2 separate regions of the Homo sapiens genome follow, and region 2 is linked to region 1. Evidence: fine-mapped expression QTL. Tissue or cell type: whole blood. Region 1 holds a variant in brackets; the other region holds the start of a gene. All regions are shown on one strand. Distances are from middle to middle.

The links. PIP is the estimated chance that this variant, and not a neighbour inherited with it, causes the effect.
Region 2: TNFRSF17 starts here. The variant in region 1 is fine-mapped to the expression of TNFRSF17 in whole blood (TOPMed, PIP above 0.99).

The regions. Positions count from the first base shown.
Region 1 is chr16:11,839,391-11,842,150 of GRCh38, reverse strand. It overlaps RSL1D1 (ribosomal L1 domain containing 1), which reads left to right. Exons shown (of 9, transcript NM_015659.3): 6 at 151-244; 7 at 331-456; 8 at 2,166-2,456. Among named protein-coding and RNA genes, the nearest start is that of RSL1D1, 11 kb to the left of the region's middle. The variant C/G (reference allele first, on the strand shown) is at 1,634.
Region 2 is chr16:11,964,012-11,966,511 of GRCh38, reverse strand. TNFRSF17 (TNF receptor superfamily member 17) reads right to left here and starts at 1,302. Exons shown (of 3, transcript NM_001192.3): 1 at 1,058-1,302; 2 at 171-317. The coding sequence starts at 1,187. It also overlaps a transcript of NPIPB2 not described here. RefSeq lists enhancers at 1,075-1,514, 1,635-1,754.

The DNA.
Region 1 (2,760 bases):
TTTGCCATGTTGCCCGGGATTAATATTTCTACCTTTTTAAAAGAAAAAGAAAAACTTGAGGATTATGTATTTATATTTCTCATATACCTGCCTGGTTTATTTTGAAAAATGGTTTTTTAAAATCTTGTCTAATACTATATTAAATTTCAGTGCTATACGTATTGGTCACGTTGGAATGCAAATTGAGCACATCATTGAAAACATTGTTGCTGTCACCAAAGGACTTTCAGAAAAATTGCCAGAGGTACAGTATTACAGGTGCATCAATTGATTGTTCATTTAAAAGAAACAAAGTATATGTAGACGATGTTACTCTTTTCTTTGTTTCAGAAGTGGGAGAGCGTGAAACTCCTGTTTGTGAAAACTGAGAAATCGGCTGCACTTCCCATCTTTTCCTCGTTTGTCAGCAATTGGGATGAAGCCACCAAAAGATCTTTGCTTAATAAGAAGAAAAAAGTTAGTAGAATTTTAAATACTTACAGAATGAATAATGAAGGGTGTAAATTCAGTCACTAGGAGAGAAGTAGACCATCATCGCTGCCCGACTTTTCAGTTATCTTCTGGTTTTGTGGTGGTTGTGCTTTTGTCACTTTACATGAGGTAAAATGGGTATGCTTTTGTCACTTTACATGAGGTAGTTGATGTTAGTAATGCGCATTAAGATAGAAATATCTTGTATTTATTGATAAATTGGATTTTTTTTTTATTTTTGTTAGATCCAGTGCTTGCTGGGTTTTTTTAGAGAGACAGGGTCTCACTCTGTCCCCCAGGCTGGAGCACAGTGACGTGATCAAGGCTCACGGCAGCCTTGACCTCCTGAGCTCAAGCAATCCTGTTTCAGCCTCCCGAGTAGCTGGCACTGCAGGCATGCTTCACCATGCCCAGCTAATTTTTAAATTATTTTTTGTACACACATGGTCGCCCTGTTTCCCAGGCTGATCTTGAATTCTTGAGCTCAAGCGATCCGCCTGCCTTGGGCTCCCAAAGTGCTGGGATTACAGGCATGAGCTACTATGCCTGGCCTGGATTAACTGGCTTTTGAGGGGGCCTGAGTTAAGTTCCTACCACATATTTCCGGTCATAGAAACATCACCATACTTCTAAATAAAGACCAAAACATTTAAAATATTAAACATTGAAATAAATGTGAGCTATATATACATTTGAAACAGTAATAAAAGGAATTGACATAATTATTTACCCAGTTATTCCCATCCACGGTTGTAGGTGGCTGGAGTTTAATCCTGATAGCTCAGGGAAAAGGGTAACAGGCAAGAGCCAACCCTAGAAAAGGCGCTGTTTCATCACAGGACAAACTCATACACCTACATTCGTTGGGACTGGGACTGGGATAACTTCAACACACCAGTTCACCTAATGTGCACGTATTTGGATGTCGGAGGTTATGCTCACAGATACCTCCTGAGCTTGGTTTGTAGGTTTTCAGTATTACTCGTACTCTAGCAAAAGAAGCTTTCGGAAGGAGAGAAAATTTAATTTTTTGCTATTTGTTAGACTGATCTCCTAGTGTTTCTCTCTTTAGCCATGTTAATTGTGTCCAATGAATTTTTAATTTTGTTTTTGAGACAGAGTTTCACTCTGTCGCCCAGGCTGAAGTGCAGTGGCATGATCT[C/G]AGCTCACTACAACCCCCCGCCTTCCAGGTTCAAATGATTCTCTGTGCCTCACCCTCCTGAGTAGTTGGAACTACAGGCACGTATCACCATGCCCAGCTAATTTTTGTGGTTTTAATAGAGATGGGGTTTCACCATGTTTACCAGGCTGATCTCGAAGTCCTGACCTCAAGTGATCCTCCTGCCTCAGCCTCCCTGAGTGCTGTGATTACAGGCGTGAGCCACCGCGCCCAGCTGAGTATTATTCTTTACACTCTAAACCATACTGTGTTTCACAAAAGTCTCTTAACTGTATACTTTAGATAGTCAGATTCTGAAATGCCGGTATATAATTTACTGCATAAAATGCATGTTTGGCTGTGAGTCAAAAACTGCGGTTGAGGTTCCAGTGCTGGTTAGGGAGTTTGTTCTCTGTATAGATCGAGGTCCATTTAGGGGCTTATGGATAATCAAAACTGCACGTGGTACATCTATGCCGTTTGTTAACCAACAGAACTGTTCCTGCTAAAATGTTTGTATGGTGTTTTTTGGTAGGAGGCAAGGAGAAAACGAAGAGAAAGAAATTTTGAAAAACAAAAGGAGAGGAAGAAGAAGAGGCAGCAGGCTAGGAAGACTGCATCAGTTCTTAGTAAAGATGATGTGGCACCTGAAAGTGGTGATACTACAGTGAAGAAACCTGAATCAAAGAAGGAACAGACCCCAGAGCATGGGAAGAAAAAACGTGGCAGAGGAAAAGCCCAAGTTAAAGCAACAAATGAATCCGAAGACGAAATCCCACAGCTGGTACCAATAGGAAAGAAGACTCCAGCTAATGAAAAAGTAGAGGTATTGTTTTAATATTTACTGTTCATAATGGATTGGTTCAGTGGCTACTGTGTCAGGCAGGTACTGTGCTGAGCAATAAATGATGAAAAATACTAGAGTGAACCCAAAGAACTGTGAAGGTGGTTATCATATCATGATTTATTGTACCTTTTTTTTTTTTTTTTTTTTAGATGGGATCTTGCTATATTGCCCAGACCGGTCTTACACTCCGGGGGTCAAAACAGTCTTCCCACCTTGGCCTCCCAAAGTGCTGGGATTACAAGTGTGAGCCACCACACCTAGTCCCAACCGGTTGGCTTTTTTT
Region 2 (2,500 bases), 120 kb before region 1:
AGAATGAAGATGGCTCACCTCTACCAAGTTCATTTAATGTAACAATGTTCTAACACATTCGAAAGGGCTGTAACGAAGTGAAATAGTCAACGCTAAAAAAAGAAAAGGAACTGAAACTCACAATAGCCATCCCCTGGAAATAGATTTCAAAGATTCACCATCAAACCAACCTGTGTTTTTAAACTCGTCCTTTAATGGTTCAGAGTTTATCTTCCTTAGCAAAAACATTAGCACGAAAACTGCCAAAGAAATTATTAAGCTCAGTCCCAAACAGGTCCAGAGAATCGCATTCGTTCCTTTCACTGAATTGGTCACACCTTTATGAAAAGAACATCAGACAGATAATGAGCTGATAACATAATATTCACATACTTTATTGTTATTATTTATTTATTTATTTTGAGACAAAGTCTTGCTCTGTTGCCCAGGCTAGAGTGCAGTGGCGCGATCTCGGCTCACTGCAACCTCCACCTCCCAAGTTCAAACAATTCTCCTGCCTCAGCCTCCCGAGTAGCTGGGATTACAGACCTGTGCCACCATGCCCAGCTAATTTTTTGTATTTTTAGTAGAGACAGGGTTTCACCAGGTTGGCCAGGCTGGCCTCAAACTGCCGACCTCAGGTGATTCACCCACCTCGGCCTCCCAAAGTGCTGGGATTACAGGTGTGAGCCATCCACCGCACCCGGCTGTCATACTTGATTATTTTGCTAAAATAATGAATTATGGATTGTTTTGATAGCAAAATAATCAAGTATGGATTATTTCCATTCAATCACCTTAATTAATGAACATTGACTTTTAAATTCTAAATATCACTTAATTAGAAGAGCTGATTTTTAAAAAAAATCTATGTTGCTAATAGTGCTGAATCATATCAAGTTCAGTTCCAAATAATTACTTTGTTTCCATAAACATTAAAATCACTGCCTTGCTTCCTTTCTCTTTTTGATTCAAGAAAACTCACCATCATGCCCATTATGTTGATTCTCTGAATAAGCAGTCCATATAGACAGAATAGTTCACACCAATGAATAATCGTTCAAGCAATATTACTTACTTGCATTACAATAACGCTGACATGTTAGAGGAGGAGTATTAGAAGAACATCGAAGTTGACAAGGTATGCAAGCATGCAACAAACTGTCAAAATATTCATTTTGGGAGCACTGCCCAGCCATCTGCAACATGATCACAAAAAGAAAACAAGGGAGCTACAGAAAGAACAGCCTGGAAGGACAAGTAATATCTCTACAAGAATTCCAGAGCAAATGCAGCAAGAGCAGCTAGAATGTTGAGAACAATGAACTTCGCCTGCTTCGTGGGTTCTTACGGGGGCTGTCTGTGTCTTCGCGGCAGCTAAGGATTTGAATACCACATCTAATTCAAGTTTCTAAGTTTGAGTCTTGGATGGGGTAAGAGACAGGGTGTAAATATCAGGGCATATCACATCTGAAACAGAAACTGCTTATTTATAGAAGAAATTTCTCAGCCAGGTGACAGTTGCAAGATGCAGACAAGCCCACAGCATCAAGCCGAATGTTCAGTAACAGTTTCTGGAACATCTGTTAATAAGCTGTACTCTGTGAGAGGTGCCAGGGAGATAGACAAGACAAGGTCTGTGCTGTGCCCCTTAAGATCTTAACATTGAGGCCAGCTGCAGGGGTTCACACCTGTAATCCCAGGACTTTGGGAGTCAAAAGGCAAAAGGATTGCTTGAGCCCAGGAGTTCAAAATCAGCCTGGGCAACATGGCGAAACCCTGACTTTACAAAAACATTTTAAAAAGTAGTCTGGTGTAAGCTGGGCGCCGTGGCGCTCTCCTGTAATCCCAGCACTTTGGGAGGCCGAGGCAGGTGGATCACTTGAGGTCAGGAGTTCCAGAACAGCCTGGCCAACATGGTGAAACCCCGTCTCTACTAAAAATACAAAAATTAGTCAGGCATGGTGGCAGGCACCTATGATCCCAGCTACTCAGGAGGCTGAGGCAGGGAGACGTGCTTGAACCCAGGAGGCGGAGTTTGCAGTAAGCCAAGATCAGGCCACTGCGCTCCAGCCTGGGTGACAAAGCAAGACTCTATCTCAAAAAAAAAAAAAATTCTACAGGAAGATCAGAGGTGATGCACTAAGGAAGACGCACAATGCCACTGACAGAAAAAGAGACATTTAGGGTAAGAGCTCGTGGAAAGAGGGCTGAGAGGAAGATAGGTTTGGGGTATTATAATAATAATACAATAATCTATGTTCCATTGTTGAAAATTTAGAAATACAGATGAGCAGATAAAACCATTTTAAAAATCCACAGTCCAAGCATCCAGAAGTCATCACCGCTAACACCTGGTGTATCCCAGAAGTTGCAAACAGACCTGCCGATGCGATGTCTTTTGTTTCACCGATCCCTGAATTCTAGATAGATACATTTATATAGTGCATTTTTCTGTTTACATAAATGGATCACTTGAATTTGCCTTTTTTTTTTTTTTTGACAGAGTCTCACTCTGTCT